Regions from separate parts of the Homo sapiens genome. Here all the other regions are reported to be linked to region 2. Evidence: microRNA targets listed by miRTarBase, many of them from high-throughput screens and not tested one by one. Region 2 holds a microRNA gene; each other region holds the end of a gene's coding sequence.

The links. The annotated mature microRNA hsa-miR-4438 reads CACAGGCUUAGAAAAGACAGU and lies in region 2 at 2,189-2,209, shown strand. An mRNA with a match to its seed (bases 2 to 7 or 8) in the 3' UTR can be bound and repressed. Matches are read on the target gene's strand: a 7mer-m8 pairs with bases 2 to 8, a 7mer-A1 pairs with bases 2 to 7 and ends in A, and an 8mer does both.
Region 1: miRTarBase lists TCHP as a target of hsa-miR-4438. The part of its 3' UTR that is shown has no 7-base or 8-base seed match.
Region 3: the mRNA of PARD3 is a reported target of hsa-miR-4438. The part of its 3' UTR that is shown has no 7-base or 8-base seed match.
Region 4: miRTarBase lists POLR3F as a target of hsa-miR-4438. The part of its 3' UTR that is shown has no 7-base or 8-base seed match.
Region 5: miRTarBase lists SIGLEC10 as a target of hsa-miR-4438. Seed matches in the 3' UTR shown: 7mer-A1 at 4,514-4,520, 7mer-A1 at 4,379-4,385 and 7mer-A1 at 4,088-4,094.

Annotation. Positions count from the first base shown.
Region 1 is chr12:109,916,256-109,921,361 of GRCh38, reverse strand. TCHP (trichoplein keratin filament binding) reads right to left here. Exons shown (of 13, transcript NM_001143852.2): 13 at 3,293-4,771. The coding sequence ends at 4,739. Among named protein-coding and RNA genes, the nearest start is that of TCHP, 19 kb to the right of the region's middle. RefSeq lists an enhancer at 410-910 and a silencer at 5,007-5,106.
Region 2 is chr2:213,755,934-213,761,039 of GRCh38, forward strand. MIR4438 (microRNA 4438) reads left to right here and starts at 2,134; the gene lies at 2,134-2,226. All of the region lies in intron 10 of SPAG16 (sperm associated antigen 16), which reads left to right.
Region 3 is chr10:34,107,132-34,112,221 of GRCh38, reverse strand. It overlaps PARD3 (par-3 family cell polarity regulator), which reads left to right. Exons shown (of 25, transcript NM_001184785.2): 25 at 660-2,661. The coding sequence ends at 1,053. Among named protein-coding and RNA genes, the nearest start is that of LINC02629, 210 kb to the right of the region's middle.
Region 4 is chr20:18,483,248-18,488,353 of GRCh38, reverse strand. POLR3F (RNA polymerase III subunit F) reads right to left here. Exons shown (of 9, transcript NM_006466.4): 9 at 3,708-4,873. The coding sequence ends at 4,796. It overlaps RBBP9 (RB binding protein 9, serine hydrolase), which reads left to right. Exons shown (of 5, transcript NM_006606.3): 5 at 1-1,814. It also overlaps the pseudogene RPL21P3. Among named protein-coding and RNA genes, the nearest start is that of RBBP9, 11 kb to the left of the region's middle.
Region 5 is chr19:51,406,409-51,411,514 of GRCh38, forward strand. SIGLEC10 (sialic acid binding Ig like lectin 10) reads right to left here. Exons shown (of 11, transcript NM_033130.5): 11 at 3,612-4,963. The coding sequence ends at 4,691. Among named protein-coding and RNA genes, the nearest start is that of SIGLEC10-AS1, 6.8 kb to the right of the region's middle. RefSeq lists enhancers at 1,475-1,524, 2,542-3,042.

The DNA.
Region 1 (5,106 bases), not on the chromosome of region 2:
CACTGCATAACATCCCAAGCTCAAACAGCCTCTTGGTGTTAGATGCCTAGGTTATTGGTTTCTGTTACCATACTAATGCTGTGAGCAACATCTTTGTACCAATCTGGTATTTCTATCTTCTGGGCCAGAAGGCAGAGCAGTACATTTCAGGAAAGCTCTGCAGGGCCGGTCAGGACAGGGCCTTGTAGGCCAGGAAAGGATTTGGCTCTTGGTACTAAGTGCAGTGAGCAGCCACTGAAGAAGGTGGACGAGTCTCATTTCAGGTGTTTATTTGTAAATGATCTCTGACTCTACGATGAAGAAAAAAATGGGCTGGCTTGGTGACATGAAGGGTGGACATTAAAGAGCAAAGTGGATGGCCAAAGGTTCAGGAGGCCACCAGGAGCCGGTGCCCTCGGTCTAAGGCATAATCAACTGGCAGGATAGATGGCATCACCAGGCGCTTATCTGAGAACACTGCAGAAGGGCCAGATGCGTCTGGGGTTTTTTTTCTGATGGGGGTTTGGGGGAGATCACTCATTCGTCTTGGCTATGCTGAGCTTGAGGCACCTCTGAGACACCGTGGAGATGTCAGAGAGGTAGGGACATCAGAGTCTGGACTAGAGCTGCAGAGCCAGGAGTTACTGATGTGAGGATGGCAGCAGAAGGCAGAGGCCTGGCTCACATCACCTAGGAGGGCCTGGGTGGTGAGGCCTGGGCCCAGAAAACTAGCACTGCTCCATTATGACCGGCAGAGGCCACAGTAACTGCAAAGTATCCACAGAACCCCATGTGTATCAGCAACCCCGATGGATAGAGAAGAGCTGTACATGTGAACTGGAAGCCAGTGTCGGTGGCCCAGCTGCTTAGGTCCAGATGCTTGGTTTGTCTCAGGAGCCAGGAGTCAGCGGCACGGACCACAGTGCCGCACAGCTTGAGCACCCTCACGTGGGGGATCCCCGCCCGCCAGCCTCCTACTGTAAGCATTTCCATATGGAAATGGAAGAGGGAGTGTTGTGGGGAAATGAAGAAAGGGAGCTGCAGTGTCTAGAGCAGTTAATTGGGAGAAAATGAGAAGAAAAGCGCTAGGGCAGCGTCAAGGCAGTACCCTGACATAAATCCAGGCTTTTCCATCATGATCCTGATGGCTGTAATATGGAAAGTGGCCCCTTTCTAGTCATTTTGCTGGAGATCAACTAGAATACCTGAACTAGAAGTTATGTGCACGGAGGATTCCAGCAACTCCATTTTAATAGAAAAAACTGGAAACTAAACAAGTGACAATGAACAAACGAACGATAGTGAATTTATACAATCAGTTTCTTACAGCAGTAAAAAACTCCAGCTACCTGCAGAAAAAACCACGCATGTATCCTTTGAGGTAGATACTGTGTTTTGAGTGATACTAAGGCATAAACATCCCTCTAAAAGGAAGACATTACAATGTAAAATCAGTTTCCTAAAATCCAACTCCACAGAGCTTCATGGCTGAATTTAGTCGAGGTCATCAAGAACTGCTAAGGCCAGTGTTTTTAAAGGCTTTACAATATCTTTTAAATGATTGCTCTATATTTTATGAACACCAAAAACTACCTAAAAACCCAGATGAAAAAGTCGTATCCATAAATATGGATGTATAGACTGTACATATTGCACAAACATCTCTTCAGCCCCATGAGTGACAACTGGCTGTTTGCCAGTGACGTCTGCTCATCCATGTGTCCGATTCGAGCGTCTGACTCTTGTCACTGTTCATGGTCAGCTGTGACTTCCCAGGCCTAGTACCTTCCCTAGAGAGAACGTGTGCTAAGCGAGGAGCAGAAAGCGAGGTTTTTTTTTTTGAGACGGAGTCTTGCTCTGTCATCCAGGCTGGAATGCAGTGGCATGATCTCAGCTCACTGCAACCCCCACCTCCCGGTTCAAGTTATTCCCCTGCCTCAGCCTCCCAAGTAGCTGGGACTACAGGCAAGCGCCACCATGCCCAGCTAACCTTTTGTATTTTAGTAGAGACGGGATTTCACTATGTTGGCCAGGATGGTCTCGATCTCCTGACCTCGTGATCTGCCTGCCTCGGCCTCCCAAAGTGTTGGGATTACAGGCGTGAGCCACTGCGCCCAGCCAAGTCATCACTTCTATACCAGTGCAAGAAGCATTTCCTAGCAGTGGTTTCAGCACCATCTGTACCAAAGGAATGGACCTTTGTAGAAGAAACTGCCAAAGAATAATCTAGAAACCACTCATTTCGAGTCAGTAGAAAAAGGTGCTTAGCAACAATAAAACCCATATATGTATCTGTAACTACAACACAATAAAAATACAAAATGCAAATACCCTGGGCCCAGAGGTGTATGGGCCACAGTAGAAATAGTAAGACAGTGGAAACTTTAAGTTTAGAAAACAAATTATTTTGGACCAGTGTAGAGCAGAAACATTTAATTAGGGCAGTGAACCAGTGTAACATAATTTTAATGCTAATGATTACCACCAGGCTTCAAAAACAAAAAATTAGGCTGGGTGTGGTGGCTCACACCTGTAATCCCAGCACTTTGGGAGACAGAGGAGGAAGGTGGATCACTTGAGATCAGGAGTTCGAGATCAGCCTGGCCAACATGGAGAAACCCTGTCTCCACTAAAAATACAAAACTGGCCAGGCGTGGTGGCTCACGCCTGTAATCCCAACTACTCGGGAGGCAGAGGCAGGAGAACCACTTGAACCCGGGAGGCGGAGATTGCGGTGAGACGAGATCACACTATTGCACGCCAGCCTGGGCAACAAGAGTGAGACTCTGTATCAAAAAAAAAAAAAAAAAAAAAATTCAGGCCAGGAACAGTGGCTCATGCCTGTAATCCTAGCACTTTCAGAGGCTGAGATAGGCGGATCACTTGAGCCCAGGAGTTCGAGACCAGCTTGGGCAACATGGCAAGAGCCCTATCTCTACTAAATTAGCCAGGCCTGGTGGCACACACCTGTAGTTCCAGCTACTGGGGCGGCTGAAGTGGGAGGATCACTTGAACTTGGGAGGTGGAGGTTGCAGTGAGCTGAGATTGCACTGCTACACCCCAGCCTGGGTGACAGAACAAAGCCGTGTTTCAAAAAAAAAAAGGTTTAAACTCAGTTCACTGTGGTTCCAATTGAAAGAAGGGAGAAACCACTTTCCTAAGAAAAATGAATATAACCTATAAAACGTGATCAGTCATAGAAAATAGCCAAGCCTGTATGTGGGAGATGTGGATTAAATCAGTAAAAAGCCTGTCACCAACAATGCACTTAACGGCAGTCAATCAGAAAATCCGTAACAAAGCCAGGAAGCCATGCTGTCGAAGCAGGATTTTATTTCACCATTACTGGACATCTGAAATGGGGAACGCAACAGAGAGCATGCGTGATGAACGTGCTGCTCAGGGGATCAGAGTCAAAGAGTTGCAAGAAAATGAACAACAGATGAAGGACGTGGTTTGCAGCTTGATCTGTTTCTACAGGACAGTGGAAGTGAAAGGTAAGACAGCCCTTAAGACTCAGGATTTTTAATAAACTCTGATTTTTAATAACCATGGAACAATGCCCTGTAATTAGCTGTAATTTACGGAGATATGGAATCTTGAACATAATGTGATGAAAACTAAACCTCAGAGGAAGGGTATAGTAAAAATACAAGTCATAAAATAATATTATTGCTGCAAGGAACTTGTTCCTGTTTGTAGAAATGAATGTAGACCTGTATCACGCTGATATAATGGTGGGAGAGATTTCTGGCCGGTCTGTGGTTCTGAGACTCATCTAGTTTCTTCAGGCTCAGTGCTTCTCCCTCTGGGCACATATATCCCAGAAGGCTACATGTAGTAGCCAAGACATTCCCAATGTGTCCTACGTGTCACGCCCCTGCCTTTAAAAGGTTAGCCAACCAGGTGACCTTCTAAGGTACCTTTTTGGTTTTAGAGATGGGGTCTCACTCTTTTGCCCAGGTTGGACTCGAACTCCTGGGCTCAAGCAATCCTCTTGCCGCAGCCTCCCGGGTAGCTGGGACTAAAGGCACGTGCCACCACACCCAGTTTGAAGTTCGTTTTGGGGCTTAGTAACATACATGTTGGGATCAGTCACTCACAGACAATGCTCTATGGAAATTCTACCAAAATGCTTCCTGGAGGAGGAAAGACTCATCTCTTGCCACTTTTCTGGAATGCGTCCATGGACGTCAGAGTGTTCCGGGGTTCTAATTTGTTCACAGTTCTTTTCTTCCAGAATATAAAAGATGTAATACTTTTGGGACCACTAAATTAATAAACTCTGAAATCAACTGCACCAAGACCTCTAGGTTTGTTTTTAATAGACTAAATTTAAATGGCAATTTTAAAAACTGAAAAGCTTTCCTCATATTTCTAGAGTCAACACTGGAGGTTGACAATTAAAGGTGAGACAACAGGAAACCACACGCCCCATCACAGGTACAACCTGTGGCTCTTAGTATTGACCTTCAGTTGATGTGACTGTTAATATATTACAAGACTATGCAGCAGCGCTGTAAACACGTGCCCATCAAAGACCCTTGCTTGGGTAAGAAAGGCATGAAAGGGACTCTCACGACACCTTAATGTCTGGCCAAACACTGGGATGTTTCAATGATGAACCTGAGCAGGCACTGCTGAGCCATCTGACAGTGCCCCGGGCACTTACTGTTAACAGAGCCCTGTAAAACTGCCTGGCGGCTGGGATCAGAAGCCTCAGCATCCCTTGTTCTCTGTACTTATGGTACCCATGAAGTCAGTTCCAAGCAATTTTTGGATGTCCGTAAGGCTGAGAAAAGAAAGAAAACATAAGAGTGATCAGATCAGCAGTATCTGCAGCATGAGGAATTAACCTTGTTTTAACTACAAGCTAAAAGAACAATATAAATGGCTGTTTCATTTCCAGCTGAAAAAATCTGACCCTAAGCCATAAATGAGGCACTTGATATCTTTTTGGTTTTGAGTACTAGCCCTAAGAAACACTTTCACATATGATCTGTGAAACCCTGACCCTGACACTCTCACTGATCCACGGCCAAGTGGGTTTAGGAAATGCTGTTCCCTGTGACTGTGACAGTCAGTGTTTGAGGGCGAGTGGCCTATGGCAAACGCAGCACCTGCTCT
Region 2 (5,106 bases):
TTAACCATCTAAATATATCAATATCTATATACCTATATATGAAAATCCCTATCTAATGAAATAGTTTAAAAATCTTCCCAAGATTATGCAGCTACTTAAATGGCTGAGTAGGACTAGATCTGCAGACCCCTGAGGCCAGCCTCAGATATCAGTCAGAGTGAACATAACAAATCAAAGTAGTGTCCTTCCACAGAGGAGTTAAAATATTTAAACATAAGTAATTTTAGCAATCCAATAGGTGTTAAAAAAAAGAAAAAAGTCTATGGGCCAGGCACGATGGCTCATGCATGTAATCCTAGCACTTTGGGAGGCCGAGGCAGGTGGATCACCTGAGGTCAGGAGTTCAAGACCAGCCTGGCCAACGTGGTAAAACCCCGTCTCAAAAAAATAAATAAATAAATAAAAATTAGCCAGGTGTGGTGGCATCCTCCTGTAGTCCCAGCTATTCGGAAGGCTGAGGCAGGAGAATTGCTTGAACCTAGGAGGCAGAGGTTGCATGCAGTGAGCTGAGATCACACCACTGCACTCCAGCCTAGGTGACAGAAAATAAAAATCTATGCCCAGATAAATCTTTAGACTAATTGAGCAAGGCCTTTGCTTATACATCTTTGGTGTACCATAGGTTTGGATTTGTAGCTGTAGACTTTAACTTTTGCTTGTCTATAGCCACTGCATTACAAAGATGCAAATACCAGACTTTTCCAAACATGTTAATATGGGATCTCTGGGAGCGGGAACCCCCTAAATGGCTAATGTATACCAGGCCAATTAAAATTTAACGGCCTAGGATATGTGTGGGTATGCATGTGTATTTATTTAAAAAGACACTCAAATAGTTTTTTTTTATATGAAGAAAGTAAAGCTTTGACACTGAAATTAAATGATGTAATAACTGTTATATTCAGCTAATATCTCAATGATGGCTTTGAGGCAGTTGATAGTAGATAGCTTTTTTAAAGAAGTGTTTTTGAATGTTTAGCATATGAAACCCTTATGGTGTTGTCTTTATAGAGCAAAGAGGGAATAAAGAAATGGAATGTAAAAAATCCTAAATATTCCACATAAAAAAGCTTACTAGAATTAATAAATGTATTCAGCAAAGTTGCAGGACACAAAATCAATATGCAAATATCAGTTGTGATTTCATATACTAACATAAATCTGAAACGGAAATTTTTAAAAATTGGGTTAAAATAGCATCAAAAATACATAGAAATATAAACTTAACAGGAGACTAAAGACTTGTTCTCTGAAAACTACAAACATTTCTAAAGAAAATAAAGATGGTAATAAATAGACATATATATTCATGAATTAGATGACTTAATATTGTTGTCCATACTACTTAAAGCTATCCACAGGTTAAATACCATCCATATCAAAATACCCATAGCTGTTTTTTTTTTCTGAAATAGAAAAAGCAATTCTAAAATTCATATGCAACCGCAGAGAACCAAAAAGAGCCCAAACAATCTAAAGAACAAGCTGGAGGTCCTGCACTTCCTGACTTCAAAGGATATTACAAAATTACAGTAGTTAAAACATTATGGAGAAATAGTTATAGAAATATGGTGGAGTAGGAAGCACCAGGAATCTGTCTTCCCACCTAGAGAACAATTGTACTGGCAGAATCTGTCTGATATATAACTATTTTGGATTTTTGACATCTACTAAAGGCTTGCAACTTCTAGGGGAAAGCTTGCATGGCGAATTATGATTAATTTCAGTCAATTTCAGCACTTAACCACAGTAGTAGCTACCCATTTCCCACAGTCACCCCTGTAGCAGGCAGCTGTGCACATGTTACTGGAGCAGTCTGCACAGAGCATGCAGGAACCAGAGTGGGCAAAAAAAGGACCTGTCATCCAAATATCGGCAATCTTTGCTCTGATTGCTGATTGCTGTTTCTGGTCACAAAGATGGACGCAAAGAGGTGAGTGGTTATTGTTGCACCTCTATCCATTATTGCAAGCCCCTCCCTGCTGGCTGAAGTGACTTCCAGAAGATTAAAAGGGCCAGTGCCCTTCTCCTACTTTATTTTTCTGTTTTTCCCCCTTTGACAGCTAGACATTAAAAAGTAGGGCATTCAAAGTAACTGCACATATGGTGACAATCAGAAAATGACTAAGTTACTAAGTGTAAACTTAAGGACTGTCTTTTCTAAGCCTGTGCCTTGCCTTTCCTTTGGCACAGGCTTAGAAAAGACAGTCTTTAAGTTTACACTTCAGACTGATTCTTGGCACAGAGATAGCCTACAACAGAATCCTCTTATGACAATATAAAAAGCAAAATCATTGACTGAAGTAACCGCAAACTCTCAGTAAGAGGGAGAATCTAATTTTTAGAGTTACTATGTTATTAGATCCAAAATCACAATTCATACAAAAAATTAAGAAACTATGTCTTGTCCAAAGGAAAATATGAAATCCCTAAAATGACTTGATGGTGGATCTGCTACAGAGGGACTTTAAAATAATTGTGTTAAATGATCAAAGAACTACAGGAAGATATAGAGAAAGTCAAGAAAATGATATATGAACAAAATGAAAAAAATTCAATGGATAGGAAACCTCACAAGAAGTTAAAAAAAATTGGGAGCTGAAAAGTACAACAACTTAAATAAAAAATTTACTAGAGCGATTCAAAGGAAGATTTGAGCAAGCAAAGGAAACAGTCAGTAAACTTGAAGATAGGACAATGGAAATCAAGGAACAGAAGGAAAAAGAATTGAAAAAAGTAAACAGAGTCTAAGGGACCTGTGTGACACAATCAAGGAGTCACAGGAGGAGAGGAGAAAGAGAAGAGAAAACTTGAAGAAACAACGGATAGAACCTTTCCAAATCTGATAAAAGACATTAATATAAACATTCAAGAAATCCAACAGAATTCAAGGAAGATGAACTCAAAAAGACATAAACTGAAATACATTATAATCAAAGCTTTAAAAGGTGGAGACAAAGATAGAATCTTAAAAGCAGCAGAAAAACATCAATATATTACTTATAAGGAATAATCAGTAAGATTATCAGTATATTTCTCACCAGAAACGTTGCAGGCCAGAAGGCAGTGGGCTGACATTCGAAGTGCTAAAGAAAAACAAAAACAGAAAACATTATCAAACAAGAATCTTATATCCAGCCAAACTGTCCTTAAAGTGAGGGCGAAATTAAGACATCCCCAGGAAAACAACAGTTGGGAGAGCTTGTTACCATTGGACCTGACTTGCAAGAAATCCTCCTGCAGAGTGAAATGAGAAGACACTAGACAGTAACTTGAAGTTGTGTAAAGAAATAAAGATCTTAATAAAGGAAAATACATAGAAAATTATAAAAGCTTATATTATTGTAACAATACTTTTTAACTGCACTTTTCGTGTTCTACATGCTTTAAGAGGTTAATATATATATATTTAAATTTGTATAAAAGTTCATATTATGCTTTGTAACTCCAATTTTGTTTTGTACATAATTTAAGAGACTAATGAATTTAAAATACTTACATGTTTATATTTTTGTATAATACATAAAGATATAATTTTGTGACATCAAAAATTGAGAGGGTGGGGGAATGGAGCTTTTGAAGGAGCCGAGTTTTTATATATTATTGCAGTTATGGTGGTACAAATTTAAATTAGAATGTTATATATGCAGGATCTAAAATATAATCCCTATGGTAACCACCAAGAAAATAGCTATATACAAGGAAATGAGAAAGAAATTTAAGCAAATCACTAAAGAAAATAAAATAGACAACTAAATATAAAAGATAGTAATGCAGGAAATGTAGGGAAACATCTATAAGCTATAACGAATTCAAATAGTGGCTGGGCGCAGTGGCTCACACCTGCAATCCCTGCGCTTTGGGAGGCCGAGGTGGGTGGATCATGAAGTCAGGAGATCGAAACCATCCTGGCCAACATGGTGAAACCCTGTCTCTACTAAAAATACAAAAAATAGCTAGGTGTGGTGGCACATGCCTATAGTCCCAGATACTCATGAGGCTGAGGGAGGAGAATCACTTGAACCCAGGAGGCGGAGGCTGCAGTGATCCAAGATTGTGCCATGGCACTCCATCCTGGGTGACAAAGCAAGACTCTGTCTCAAAAAAAGAAAAAAAAAAGAATTCAAAAATAGTAAAATGACAGAAGTAGCTTCCTTCTTTTCAGAAATTACTTATAAATTGATTAAATGAGCTAATCAAAAGACTGGCAAAATAGATTTTTTTAAAAAAGATCTATGTGTGTACAAGAGACTCATTTTAGATCCAAAGATGCAAATAGATTGAAGGTAGAGGGACAGAAAAAGATTTCTCAGGCAAATAACCAAACAAGAGCAGGGTAGCTATACTGAGAACAGACAAAATAGACTTTAATCAAAAAGTTTACAAAAGGCAAAGAAGGACATTCTATATTAATAAAAGGTTTAATACAGTAAGAAGTTATAACAAGTATAAACATTTATGAACCTAGTAACAGATCACTAAATTATATGAAGAAATAACTTACATAATGGAAGGGAATGATACACAGTTCCACAGTAATAGTTGAAGATGAATAAATCACTCTCAATAATGGCTAGAAAAAAAAAACAAAGATAAATAAGAAAATGCAATACATTAAAAAAAAAACAATTAGACCTAACTCTGTGCAACAACAGCGTACACATTCTTCTCAAGTGTACATGGTACATTTTCCAAAATAGACTATATGTTACTTCATAAATTAAGTCTCATTAGATTGAAAAGATAGTTATAGAAAGTATCTTCTCTGATCCTAAGAAGATTGTCTTAGTTCATTTTTTGCTGTTATAACAAAATGCCACACACTGGATAATTTATATAAAAATGTTTTTTCCTCACAGTTTTGGAGGATGAGGAATCCAGAAGCATGGTGCCAACATTTGGCAAGGGACATCCTATGGCAGAAGGCATTAGATGGCAAGAAACAGAGAAAGAGACAGACATCAGGGGCTGAACTTGTTTATAACTACCCCGCTACTTCAATAATGACAGTAGTAGTTTTAGTCCTTATGGCAGGATTTATGGGAGGACTCTGCCTGTATGACCCACTCACCCCTTATTTGGCTCCATCTCCTAACACTGTTGCAT
Region 3 (5,090 bases), not on the chromosome of region 2:
TACAGACTTCCGGACTCTCCGTCCAATCTGGATGAGCAGGTATCCCGGAGAGTGTAAGTTGCTGACATACACAACTTGAAAGCCAGAGCTTTAAGGGACTGCCTGTTGCATTTTTTATCATAAAGGAGTCTAGACTTAAATCTTTCATAACCGAACTCATACTGTAATCCATTACATGTACTTCATATTAGCTAGCGCTTCTGGCATTATGGTGGCAGCTGTGTAAAATATTTGTTGTGCTTGTTTAGAATTGAATTGTAATGTTCTAAAGCGAGCAATTATTCCTACCATGGAAGCTGCCAAACCTCTAATACTTCTATACTTTGCCAGTGTGTCTAAATTGCAGGAGATATTGGTACCCTAAGCAGAACAGACACAACCTTCTCAGACACAGGAGGATGACCCTGTTTCTAAATAGCTGCACAGTCTAGTTCTCTCTCCTGTTTACTCGTTGTTAGTTTAGTTGTCTAAGACTATGCGCTTGCTGAGGACAGTCATTTTTGAATTCTCCAGCCCCTATCGCAGTGTCTGGCATGTGATGAGAGAACAGGAATATTTGTTGAAAAGTGAAAATGCATATTCCATCCCATCCTGCCCCCTTTCCTCCCTCTCCCTCCTTCTTCCTACCCTCACACTAACCTTTGGGTTTTGCTTTCTAGGCAAAGCAGGAAAAATGCCAGCTCGGTCTCCCAGGACTCTTGGGAGCAGAACTACTCCCCTGGGGAAGGCTTCCAGAGTGCCAAAGAGAACCCCAGGTACTCCAGCTACCAAGGCTCCAGGAACGGCTACCTGGGAGGACATGGCTTCAACGCCAGGGTCATGCTGGAAACTCAGGAGCTCCTTCGCCAGGAACAGAGGCGGAAGGAGCAGCAGATGAAGAAGCAGCCTCCTTCCGAGGGGCCCAGCAACTATGACTCGTATAAGAAAGTCCAGGACCCCAGTTACGCCCCTCCCAAGGGGCCCTTCCGGCAAGATGTGCCCCCCTCCCCTTCTCAGGTTGCGAGGCTGAACAGACTTCAGACTCCTGAGAAAGGGAGGCCCTTCTATTCCTGAGCACGCAAATAACGGATGCTTCATGTCGCGCAATAAAAGACATTTTCCTATGAAGACTTGTATTTTGGGAGTTTTTTTAAAACCTCGATGGTACTATGGAGTATTTCTGTTGTTGGTATCAGTGCCTTTAAGCGGTGTAGGCAAAGAAATGGAAGGCCTTAATGTCTTTGCCACTATGTCTCAAGTGTCTGTTTCATGGAAGGATTTCCCACCCTGTGACAATCATCTGTTTGAGGTGTTCATATGCTCTGCGCCTCTCCACAGTACCAGGAATCTCGGCCCTACTCATGAGTTGTCCGCGGCTTGGTTGTAACATCCCTGCACCACTTGCAGTGACAAATTCACCTGAAGTGGAGGATGACGTGCGGCCCTGTTTCTCCCTCTAAGTTCTCTTAGCTATGGGATGACATCTTAGTCTCTGGTGGAGGAAAAGTGGGCGACATACACCAAAAATTGGGGCTTTCTGGTACTTCACAGCACAGCCATTTGTCGTACTTTGTCATCACTGTGGTTTTCTCTTTCCTTTCTCAGCTCTTTGTGACGGGAGAGTCGGTCATCCTATTACAGAAGCTAAGCCATAGTCCAACATTGTTTGGTCACCATGGGGGTCCTTTTGTAACTGCCTTATGACTCAACATTACCAATAAAGTGATGATCCTGGTCTGCGTTTATACATACGCTTGTTCGGTCCTGTTCCTGACACGTGGGTTGAGTCACCACAGCTCTGTGTGGGGAACGTGGGAGACAGGAGTGGCTCCTGCCGGGGGAAGCTGGGCCTGCCATTGGCCCTGTGTCTATCATGAGGGGAGAGCTAAGAAAGAAATTCTCCTAGGAAGAGCTCATGGCCCAGTACATCCTAGTAATTATTTTAATTAGTTTTTGTTCTGACAGCTTGTCAGGAAGGGCACAGAATGGGACAGAGATAAACCAGACAGTCATTTTGATCTGCTCTCTACGGTTTTTCAAGTCAGAGGCAATTGATGCTTGTCTAATGCATCCACACACTGCATGTCTGACTGGCGATGCCGCGCTCCTAAGTAGTTCTGCCATGAAACATAAAAGACAAAGGAAAAGCCGTTACACATCACACAGAGAACATTTTCGGGTCCCACAGCGGTGGTGGCAGGAAGCTCACTCTCGCGTCAGTATTAGAGTGTGTGTGTGGGTCTCGGGGATCTCGGTGGCTCCCATCTTCCTTCATTGTTCTGAACATCCTGTATTGTAAACCATGGCTGGGGTGCTAAAGTGCCTGTGAATCCCGATGTGGAAAAAGCTGGAGGTGAAAGCTCAGCATACCATGTATTTACTTTAAAAACAGAAAAAAAGACATGTATGGATATGTCTATTTTTTTTTTATTGGCACATTGTATTTTTGTGTTGACTTGTTTTTAGAAATGATGTGTCCACACACGTACCCGTGTCTCTTCTGCATTTCTGTGTCATGGTTCTGTTTCTTAATCACGTGCGGCGGTGTCTAAGTGGTGTTACCAGTGTACGCGCAGTGACCTTGGATGACAGTGGCTCTTTCTCACAGCCTCCCCTGAGCTGTGAGAAACAGCTTTCTCTGTACATATGCAACTCCTAATAAAAGGCATATTTCTTCCTGTTCTTTTGGTGTCTCTGGTGTTCCTGGGCAGCCTTGCCTAGCTGGGCTTTTTTAAAAGGTCTATTAACAGATGTGATTTTTTTTTTTTTTTTATATTTAGAGAAAGTTGGAAGTTTCCTCACATCTGAGGAAAGTTTGCAGGAAAGGGGGCAGGAGAACCCTGGGGCCCACTCTTGGATGAGGATGGAGAGGGGGGACTCACCTGTCCCTTGGAAAAGATGGTCCCCATTATGACATCATTCTCACTCTTAGTCCATTAAGACAATATACAGTCTTACAGTTGGAAGTCTCAAAGTGGGAAGTTTGCAAACACAGGAACTGGTGGTTGATTGCGTATTTGAGCACCTGAGGAGAGAGGGGAAGGGGAGAGACAAGAACCTTCATGAGTCCACTGCAAGGCCCAGGCTGCCTGAAGAAGCCTGAGGAGTTCTGAATTGAAGGAGCCAGTACAGCTCGAACTAAATGAATGAAAAATTATGCAGAAAGCGACATGATAGTCCCATGACTGCCCTTTGGACCCTTGGAATCATCCTAGCAAGCCAGATGTTTTGATTGAGTCCTGGCCTTGAGTCCTGTGAGCCCAGAGAAAGGTCCAGATTCGAGTCCACTTCCAGTACAAACCTGGTTCTTATTTCCCAAATTACAAAGTAAGGCTTTGCTATTTCTTTAAGAGGGACGCCCACAAATATGCATGCGGCATTTTGAAGGCATAAAGGGTGCTATGTCCCTAGGTATGTCTAGTGCACAAATATAGGAGATTTGGTCCCCACACAAATGGCAGACTTTGCGAGGACCTGTCAAAAATGCCCTCTTATGGAGCACCTAGCATCAGTGGGTTGTCATAGCAACGCTCATCCTGTCACTACATCCAAATTCTATCACCTCGAGATTAGGAATGAGGGGTGCATGGCAAGCCGAGGCAATACCACCTCCTTGGTTCTTTCAAGCATGCCAGGTGTGGGAAGTGAAAAGGGAAGATGGACAGGTTTGTTCATTTTCTCCCTGAGCAGGAGGCCCATTGCTAATGCCAAAACACATGGCTTATTTGTCTCAACTGACAGCGGACAGCAGAGTAGGAGAGGCAATAATCACATGTTGTGGGGACCCAAGTCACAAAGGGACCTGTGGGTTGAAACTGACAGTTTGAGCGGCACTGGGAAGAGAAGTAGGAATGGTCCACAGAGAAGTCAAAATAGGCTCCATGAAGCAACCTTGACTCAGCGGACCAGCCTCCTGGCTTCAGGACCTTTTGCTAAGACACAAGGGTATCCCCTGGGAGGGCGTGTCCCAAGGCGGAGCCGGCCCGGGTGCTGTCAAGATGGGCACTGGAATCTGCCCAGCAAAAATTGCATGAAAGGGGAGCCAGGGAGACCCTGGAGCCCACTCTCAGATGAGGATGGAGGTAGGGGAACTCACCTGTCCTTTGGGAAAGATGGTCTCCACTATGGCATCATTTCTAAGTCCATTAAGACAGTATATAGTCATTTGTATTAGAAATTATAAAAATAATACTGCATAGCATATCTATATTATATGTAATTGAAGCACTGCCATCCACCTTCTCTTTCTGTGGTCAGACCGACGGCAGCTCAAAGGTCAAAGTATTAGGGTTCAATCACTTGGCGGTTCATGGTCCAATGACCACAGCTAAGGAGGAGTTCACCAAGGGTTTCATTATTGGCAACGCGTGAGGAGGATGCCAGGGATAGTTCCCAAAAGCAGTACCTCCCTGAACGAGGTGAAAACAGCTTTTATCGGGCTGGTGAGCTGAGCTGAGTCATCATATGTCAAGCTTGTCCAATCTGCAGCCCAAGGGCCACATGTGGCCTGGGATGGCTTTGAATGTGGCCCAACAAAAATTCGTAAACCTTCTTAAAATGTTATGAGATTTTTGTTTGCGATTTAAAAAAATTTTTTTTTAGCTCATCAGCTATCGTTAGTGTATTTTATGTGTGGCCCAAGACAATTCTTCTTCCAACGTGGCCCAGGGAAGCCAAAAGATTGGCCACCCCTGTGAGGTGGAGTAAGGCTGGTGCAGGGACAGTCATTGATCATGCTTCTACATCCTTCGCATGGGTAGAAAATGGCAAATAAGTTCCTCCCTGGGCGGAGTGTTTAGTGCAGTAAGGAGAAGAGTTCACCAAAGTTCCCTCCAACTAGGCACCTCTGGATCCAACTAGTTTTTATTTTGCTGGGTCTGGGCTGCTTCCTGGAATTTTTGTGAAACAAGGAGAACTCAGGGTGCAACAGTTACCAGTGGGCACTTTTCCACAGGCTGCCAGAAAACCCGGGGACCCTGGGTTACAAAAGCACCCCACAATTGACAGGGCTGTCCCAGAACAGGCGGAGAGCAGGACCCCAACTTCTCTGGGTTTCTGCCAATGAAGTCCAGTAGATCCAATGAGAGAGGGTAAACCCAGTGAATTTTCTG
Region 4 (5,106 bases), not on the chromosome of region 2:
GAGCCTTCAGTGAGCTATGATCGCGCCACTGTACTCCATCCTGGGTGATGGAGCGAAGAACCTGTCTCTTAAAAAAAAAAATTTTTTTTTAATTAAAAAAACCCACCCTTTTTCATTTCCCAACATTTTTTGGCTATTATGATCGCTATGTGTTCCTTCAAATAATTTCCAGTGAATCCACACTTGATGTTGCAAAGCCTAAGTTTGCTGCAGAAATACAATTTCCTACACTTCATACCTAAAGGAGATTCAGAGCTATCGCTCAAAACCAAAAGTCTTGGTTTTTAAATGTGCTTAGACAAAAAAAATCAGGAAAGGTACCCTAATCGTTCAACAGCAATCATCTTTGGGGAATGGGCATTTTGGTAGGTAAAGTGTGGTGGACGTCCTTATTATTATTTTTGAGACAGTGTCTTGCTCTGTCTCCCAGGCTGGAGGTCAGTGGCACAAATCTCAGCTCACTCTAACCTGCACCTCCCGGGTTCAAGTGATTCTCATCTCAGCCTCCCAAGTAGTGTGAACTAAAGGCATGTGCCACCACGCCTGGCTAATTTTTGTATTTTTAGTAGAGACAGGGTTTCACCATGTTGGCCAGGCTGGTCTCGAACTCCTGGCCTCAAGTGATCCACCCACCTCAGCCGCCCAAAGTGTTGGGATTACAGGCATGAGCCACCATGCCCGGCCCCTTATTTTACTTTATCCTCCTGATTATTTGAATTTGTTACACTAAGCATGTATTTTATAATCAAAAATAATTAAGATTTAAAACAATGTATTTGACTACTAAAAAGCAAATTATATAAATCAGTTGAATAATAATGTTGTTAAAGAGGCTGTTTAGCACTAATTTGACCAAATCTATAGTCAAAGTTTGATTCTACTTGAATTTTTTGGAAATTTGCTGTTGTATTACTTATTCTTTGCCTTGTTCTCTGTGAAGTCCTTTCCTAAAAAAGAAACTTATACAATTTAGTTCACAAAACTTTGTTGACCTCTTTCTCTGTAGAAATGAAAACTAAATATATATAATTGAGAAATAATTCTGATACTCTTCATTCCTATAAAAGTAATTAAGATAGACCTATAGGATTGTTGAACTTTGCTGCCAAATATAGTAACCAGTAACCACAGCTAGCTGTAAAATTGAAAATTCAGTTCAGTCAAACTAGCCATATTTCAAGTGCTCAACAGCCACTGGTGGCTATTGGTTACCTTACTGACCAGCCAATATAGGCTATTTCCGTCATTATAGAAAGCTCTATTGGACAACATTGGTCTAGGACATATATTTTGTATTTTCCCCTCACCCACCATCCAATAATGAGTAATAGCACAAAGTAAAAGTGACTTAATTTGAAATTACTTCTGTTTGGCTAGTTTGCTTAGCTGATCACCACCAACATCATAGGTCTATAAATCACCCAACTAAGATCAGGGGTGTTTCATGGGAAAATCTACACAAACTATTCATTAAAAACCATAGAGCCATGGACTGTCATTTCTGATTTCTGTTTGATTCTTTGTGGTCATCATTGAATATACAGGGGCCTCTATACACTCTGGGGAGTATCTATTCTCAGGTGAGCAAAATACCGAATACTGAATGGAAATCAACTGTAAGTATTAGGACTTCATATGCAACTTGAATTTTTGGTGCTGTCCGGAGTCTAGAGCCCCACAATCTGTTTTGGTTACAGTTTATCCCTGTAGGATAAATGATCCATTTAACTATTCATCAGAGGTGCTGTAATTTTAAATTGTCTCTTGTCTCCTTCAGTTAATTTTCAGAATTAAAAACATACCATGGGAAAAAAGCTTGAAGTTTCTCTTTATTGGTGAGGTAAGGAATACTTTTGTTTTAGCCATTGAATGTTAAGCTCTAAAAACCAATCTTTAGCTATAAAGACATAAGACAAAGTCTATATTTAAAACATACAAGCTGGTTTCTTCTCATTTCTAGCTCTCTTCCAAGTTCATTTTTCTTACTACATAAAACTAGTGCCTTTTTGATAGGCCAAGTCCCAGGAAGGACAGACATTGTTCTTACCATTCCAACTCTCACTGAGGGTGGAAGAGAAACCCTCTGTCTGTAGTTTCAGGTTCCCAGATCCTTCATATATATATATATATATATATATATATATATATATATATATATATATATATATATATATTTATATTTACATATATATATATTTATATTTACATATATATTTTTATATATATTTATATATATATTTATATTTATATATATTTATATATATAATTTTTTACAGTCCAGAGATCTTTTATTAACACTTATTATGCCATGAATTCATACGGAATAAGTTCCAGCAGCTCAGGCTCCTTCCCATTGGTTCTCACAAAGTGTGCTTCTCTGGGTGGAGCAGGCTGGCACTTCAGTTGAACCCAGGTAACTTTCTCTCTTTTTTTTTTTTGGAGACGGAATCTCGCTGTCACCAGGCTGGAGTGCAGTGGCGCGATCTCAGCTCACTGCAACCTCCGCCTCCCAGGTTCAAGCGATTCTCCTGCTTCAGCCTCCTGAATAGTTGGGACTACAGGTGTGCGCTACCATGCCCAGATAATTTTTGTATTTTTAGTAGAGACAGGGTTTTACCATATTGGCCAGGATGGTCTCGATCTCTTCACCTCGTGATCTGCCCGCCTGAGCCTCCCAAAGTGCTGGGATTACAGGCGTGAGCCACCATCCCTGGCAAACCCAGGTACCTTTCTCTTTGGCTTCTTTTTTTTTTCTGATCATTTTCCTCATGCATTTCAGGAAGCTATCTCGGCTCTTAGAGTGCTTCATGTGCTCAGTATGCACATTAATGCTCTTGGCAAGAATATTGCCCTTGTTTATTTACAACAATGCCAACAGCATGCTGGGTAACACTGTAGACTCTTCCAGTTTTGCCATGGTAACACTTGTGGGGCATTCCTTTTTGAACAGTACCCATTCCCTTGATGTCTACAATATCACCTTTCTTATAGATTCGCATATACGTGACCAAAGGAACAACTCCATGTTTTCTAAAAGTCCTAGAGAACATATATCGGGTGCCTCTCCTCTTTCCGTTTGTGTTCATCATTTTGGCAAATTACTGGAAGATGGGGGTTCTGGCCAAAAGGCTGTGTATCTTATATATGTATGTATATTCAATACTTGAAATAATTTTTGTTACAAAGAGCTAGTGTCATCAAATGCTAATTCACAGAATGTGGCCTGAATTTTATTTTACTGATACCATTTATCTTAAAATAACTCTTCTGATATCCACTTAGAGCATCTCCAAACTGGTATTAGAACCCAACCCTCAGTACTAGTGGAGCTTGAATTCCTTTCCATGGGTCCCATGTTTTTGGCTTGGATACAGAAACTTCTAAGTGGAGCTACAAAGTGAAAATATGAAGCTGCAATTCTAAAAAGCCGCACAGTCAACTTCTGTGCAACAATACATCAAATAACCTAGTGTTTTCTATGTGGCTGACCATAGGAACTGAAAGTGTTATTAGAACTGAGGACAATTATAATGGCTTTCTGCTTAGACACATCACACCATGATTTAGAACAGAATAAGGAAGGGAAATAAATCTAAAACAGAGTAAGAGAAAAAGAATGTTATCCCCTCTCTCAAAATAAAGTGTGAATGGAGGGCACGGAGTATATTTAGTTTCAGTTAATGCTATAACAGAATACCATAGACTGGTGGTTTATCAACAACAGAAATTTATTTCTCACAATTCTGGAGGCTGAGAAGTCCAAGATCAAGGTGCTTACAGATTTGTTTTCTGGTGAGGACCCACTTCCTGGTTCGTGGATGTTTGTCTTCTCCCTTTCACATGGCAGAAGGGGTGATGGAGCTCTCTGGGTCTCTTTATATAAGGGCACTAATCCCATTCATGAGCGCTGTTACTCTCCTGACCTATCACTTACCAAAAGCCCCACCTCCAAATACCATCACATTGGAAATGAGATTTCAACATTAGAATTCTGGGGGCACACAAACATTCAGTCTACTGCAGACATTAAATAAGAATCTAGGGTAAATTCTAACAAAGAATACATTTGAGTTAAAGAGTGAAACATAAGACTTTAAGAAAGAAGGAACAGTGAAAATATTCTTTAGAATGAAAATGATAGTATTTATGTACTGAAAATATGTCCTTGACAGTAGTCATTGGGTTTGAAGTAAGTATGGTAGCATAATCTCCTAAAAGAACATTTCTGATACAAAAAGGAATTAATATTGTGCGGAAAAGGCATGTTCCACTCTCCCCCAGTCATACCCCAAGTTTGCACTCTTTGCTATTCCTGCCTTTAACCCCTTCTAATTTCTTTTCAATGAAACCACTGAGAAAGTAGGAAACAGAAAATGGTGGTAGTGAACCAGATATAAAAAAAAACTTCCAATGAAGAACTTAATAAATAACTTTAAAAAGAACATTTTTATACTCTAGCCATTATCATAGTACTTGGTAAATACGGGTATGTTGGCATCTTTTTCCTTGACCCATCAGAAGTCTTGAAAGATGTGGTCCTCCGGAGTTTCAAAGTGTTTTATTTATTGAAGAATGAATTTCACTACTAACCTTATTTCTTTCATATTCTACTGGCTATTTTACCAATATAAATTTAGTCTTCATAAATAAAAAAAATATGTTTTCATAGCAGCAAGTCTACGTCCATTATTGTGAAGTTTGCTTTCAAGGAGATTTCGTGTTCCATCATGAATTAAATTATCTGCTCCCTAAGTAACTTCATTTGCAAAATGTCAATAAAGTTCATAGCTCTCTATTAAAATTCGAGCCACTCTGTCATGTAAATACAGTTAGATGGTGAAATCTCACCACCTTCGTGGCAGTCATCAAAAACCTTTAAAAAAGAAAAAAAAATTATATTCAAATTAAAGTTTTAAAATATCTAAGACCCAACCACTTATTTAAAGCAAGATTAAAAACAAAACTTTCAAACTGAAAGGGACTAGGACTGTACTTAAGAACATATTATAGCCGGACGCAGTGGCTCACACCTGTAATCCCAGCACTTTGGGAGGCCGAGGTGGGTGGTCAAGACCATCCTGGCTAACATGGTGAAACCCCGTCTCT
Region 5 (5,106 bases), not on the chromosome of region 2:
TTCCAAAGGTCTTGACTTCAAATATCATTACATTGGGGGTTAGGAATTCAACCTAGACTTTGGAAGGACACATACATTTTGTCTATAGCAGGGGGTGGATGGACACGAAGGAGGGTAGCTGGGCTTCTGCAATCTAGGTGATATGTCACCCAAGAAAGCGGTAAGAGGCTGCATGGTGTCTGCCAATGGTGGAATTGGAGAAGGTATGGGAGAAGCAGGGGACACAACTCTCATATCAAGAAACAGAGGAGGCTGGGCACGGTGACTCACATCTGTTATCCCAGCACTTTGGGAGACTGAGGCAAGCAAAGCAGTTGGGGTCAGGAGTTGGAGACCAGCCTGGTGAACATAGCGAAACCCCATCTCTAGTAGTAAAAATACAAAAATTAGCTGGGTGTGGTGGCGCGCACACGTGTAGTCCCAGCTACTCGGAAGGCTGAGGCATAAGAATCGCTTGAACCCGGGAGGCAGAGTTTGCAGGGAGCCAAGATCGCACCATTGCACTCCAGCCTGGGCAGCAGAACAAGACTCTTGTCTCAAAAACGAAAACCAAACAAGCAAACAAACAAAAAAACATGATTGACTCAGTGATCAGAAAACATATAACTATTTTATATTCATACTTCCTGCAGTTAATGTCCCAGTTGACTGGTTAAAAAGAATATTTGGGGGCCAGGCGCAGTGGCTCATGCCTGTAATCCCAGCACTTTGGGAGGCCGAGGCGGGCGGATAACAAGGTCAGGAGATCAAGACCATCCTGGCTAACACAGTGAGACCCCGTCTCTACTAAAAATACAAAAAATTAGCTGGGCGCGGTGGCAGGCACCTGTAATCCCAGCTACTCGGGAGGCTGAGGCAGGAGAATGGCATGAACCCGGGAGGCGGAGCTTGCAGTGAGCCAAGATTGCACCACTGCACTCCAGCCTGGGCGACAGCGAGACTGTCTCAAAAAAAAAAAAAAAAAAAGAAAAAGAATATTTGGCAATACGGAAAGTTCCCCTTGGGTTTTCTGACTCCAAGCCTGGTGTTTTTGTTTGTTTGTTTGTTTGTTTTCATTTGCACAACATTGCCTTTCCCCAAGAGTACTGGATAACAATGCCCTCCCTCCAAGTCCCAAGTCACTATTGCAGAAGTCAGGACCTTAACACACACATTTCAAAGTTACTGACACCTAGTCAAACCTGGTGCCTTAGCAATGCAATCTTGTAATTTCCCAGGTCAAACAGATCTTCAAGGGTTGCTCTCATGGCAGAATTTGGTGGTAGAAGGAAGGAAGCAGAGTCTCAGTCTTTGTGCAGCTTGTAGGGAGTTCCCTTTTTCTCAAGCCCTTGCAGCATCCTTCCCACTCTAAGCTTAAAGGAGACTGTGTAACCAGCAGTGCTCACCCATCCTGGGCCTGAGTTTGAATCCCAGCTCTGGAGTTCAGCTGTGTGACATGCAAGACCTTGTCCCTCTCTGAAGTCCTTCTGTAAAATGAGGTGGCTGCATTGGGTGATCCCATTCCACACCATGAGTCTATAGTCCTATCATCCTGGGTATACCGACGTCTGGTGGCCAACTTTGGTCCTTGCAGCTAATTCAGGTTTTTTCTTTGTTTTTGAGACATAGTCTCGCTGTGTCACCCAGGCTAGAGTGCAGTGACGCGATCTCAGCTCACTGCAGCCTCTGCCTCCCAGGTTCAAGCGATTCTCATGCCTCAGGATCCTGAATAGCTGAGGAATACAGGCACCTGCCACCACACCTGGCTAATTTTTGTATTTTTAGTAGAGACAGGCTCTCGCTCTGTTGCTCAGACTGGTCTCGAACTCCTGAGCTCAAGTGATCCGCCTGCCTCGGCCTCACAAAGTGCTGGATTACAGGCGTGAGCCACCGTGTCCAGCTCAGTTTTTAATTTTTTATTTTTCAGTATCTGGAGTGTTTAGCACAGCCAGGAAACAAAACACACCAGAGAGGGCCACCTTGCCATGTCACCAACGATGCAATAACTACCGAAGAAAGGCCCCTTGGGTGGCTATGGAGGAGCAGAGGTCAGCAGAGGAGATGGCCAGCAAAGTGCTCTCCTTTGCTCTATTTCTTTTCTTTTGAGACGGAGTCCCACTCTATTGCCCAGGCTGGAATGCAGTGGCATGATCTCGGCTTCTGCAACCTCCATCTCCCAGGTTCAAGCAATTCTCCTGCCTCAGCCTCCCGAGGAGCTGGGATTACAGGTGCCCGCCACCACACCTGGCTAATTTTTGTATTTTTTTAGGTGAGACGGGGTTTCACCATGTTGGCCAGGCTGGTCTTGAACTCCTGACATCAGGTGATCCGCCCACCTCAGCCTCCCAAAGTGTTGGGATTACAGGCGTGAGCCACTGTGTGATTCTTAGCATGTTGTAAGTTTGTCATTGTTCCATTTCCAAAGCATTCCAACCTCCATCCCCGCATGCGTTTGCACTTCTTTAGATTTGTGGGTCTGAGAGCGCATTAGCACCCCATCCACATGCAGTCTCCTGCCCTTCCAATCCTCACCCTGAAAACCTTCCTGTAGTCACAGACCTAGTCATTTTTCCCACGGCTACTCTTGAACTCTTTATGGACCTCTGCGCTCGCTTCCTCTTCTGTGAAAACAAATGAGTTTATGTAGATTAAGATCTAGCCAACTTCTGTAAAGGATCAGATGGTAAATATTTTAGGCTTTGCAGGCTAGTGACTCAACTCTGCATGAAAATAACTGCAATGTGTAAAGGAATGAGCATGGTTGGGCACCACACTGAAATTTGAATTTCATCTCCTTCCCAGGGGCCCCAGAAGAGTCTTCTTCTTCGGACTTTTTCCCCAAGCATTTAAATGTAAAAACATTTCTAGCTTGCAGGTGGTATGAAAATAGGCAGCAGGCTGGAGGTGACTGAGGAGCCTATCTAGTCTTTTTTTTTTTTTTAAACAGAGTCTCGCTCTGTTGCACAGGCTGGAGTGCAGTGGCGCCATCTCAGCTCACTGCAACCTCGGCCTCCTGGGTTCAAGCAAATCTGCCTCAGCCTCCCGAGTAGCTGGGACTACAGTTGCGCACCACCACGCCCAGCTAATTTTTGTATTTTTAGTAGAGACGGGGTTTTACCATGTTGGCCAGGCTGGTCTCAAACTCCTGGCCTCAAGCGATCCATCAGCCTCAGCCTCCCAAAGTGCTGGGATTACAGGCGTGAGCCACTGCGCCTGGCTGTATCTAGTCATCTTTAAAGACCCTCCCATCTCTGAGAACCCATGAAACTGCGCAGTCCTCTGGACTGGAGCTGGGGTGTGTCAAAGGCAAATCTTTGCCTGCCTTCTCAGAACACCATATTCAGAGAAGGCCATTCAGGACAGATTTGTCAGGCTGTTCCGAATGCCCAGGTCTGGGATGAGATGGCCTATCCATGGAGGATTTTTATTTTTTCGAGACAGGGTCTCACTCTGTTGCTCAGGCTGGAGTGCAGTGGTGTGATCTTGGCTCACCACAGCCTCTGCTTCCTGGGTTCAAGTGATCCTCCTGCGTCTGCCTCCCAAGTAGCTGTGTTACAAGAAAGGGGTCCTGATCTAGACCCCCCAAGAGAGGGTTCTTGGATCTCACACAAGAAATAATTCAAGACGAGGCGGTAAGGTGAAAGCAAGTTTATTAAGAAAGTAAAGGAACAAAAGAATGGCTACTCCATAGACAAGAGCAGCGCCTAGAGCTGCTGGTTGCCCACTTTTATGGTTATTTCTTGCTTATTTGCTAAACAAGGGGTGGATTATTCATTCCTCCCCCTTTTGGGACATATCGGGTAACTTCCTGATGTTGCCATGGCATTTGTAAACTGTCATGGTGCTGTCAGGAGTGTAGCAGTGAGGACGACCAGAGGTCACTCTCGTGGCCAACTTGGTTTTGGTGGGATTTGGTTGGCTTCTTTACTGCAATCTGTTTTATCAGCAAAGTCTTTATGACCTGTATCTTGTACGGACCTCCTGTCTCATCCTGTGACTTAGAATGCCTCCACTGTCTGAGAATGCAGCCCAGTAGGTCTCAGCCTCATTTTATTCAGCTCCTATTCCAGATGGAGTTGCTCTGGTTTAAATGTCTGACAGCTGGGACTACAGGCACACACCACCAAGCCCAGCTATGTTTTGTATTTTTTGTAGAGATGGGGTTTCACCATGTTGCCCAGGCTGGTCTCGAACTCCTGGGCTCAAGCAATCCACCCACCTTAGCCTCCCAAAGTGCTGGGATTACAGACACCCAACCCATTTGGAGGATTTTTTTTTTGAGATGGAGTCTCGCTTTGTTGCCCAGGCTGGCGTGCAATGGTGTGATCTTGGCTCACTGCAACCTCCGTCTCCCAGGTTCAAGTGATTCTCCTGCCTCAGCTTCCCAAGTAGGTAGGATTACAGGCGCCTGCCACCATGCCCAGCTAATTTTTGTATTTTTAGTAGAGACGGGGTTTCACCAAGTTGGCCAGGCTGGTCTCGAACTCCCGACCTCAGGCGATCTGCCCACCTCAACCTCCCAAAGTGCTGGGATTACAGGCGTGAGCCACTGTGCCCTGGCCAGATGTTTTTTTAAAAGAGAGAGAAAGAGAGAGAGAGAGAGAAAGAGAGAGAGAGAGGGAGAGAAGGAAACTTTGCACTCTGTTATCTTCAACCTCTTACTCTACCTTCCTCCCTAGCCGAAGTCCCAGTCCTAAAGCCTAAGAGACCCTCATTGGAACTTGACTTCTGCATAATCCGCCTGGGTGCCCTTGGGCATCCGGGCCTCAGGCCTGGGTCTGACGCCTGGGAAGTTGAGCGTGGCATAATGGAGCTCCTCTTGGCTCTCCTGGGATTCTGGGGCTTGAGTGGATGATTTGGGTTCTGGGAAACTGGGCAACTGATACTGCTTTTTCTGGTTCTTCTTTGATTCTGGGGAGGGAGCACCTGGTGGAAGAGGGGTCCGAGGACTGTTTGGTGTGGCTTTCTGATTCCGCTTCTGAGCCTGAGGGAAGAACCACCATCCTTCATTCATTCATTCAGCAAATATTTGAGCACTTACCACGCGTCGGGCACTGATTTACAGCACAGAGTGAAACTAAGTCCCTGCCCTTGCCTTGCTGAGCTTGCATTCCATCTTGGAAGGAG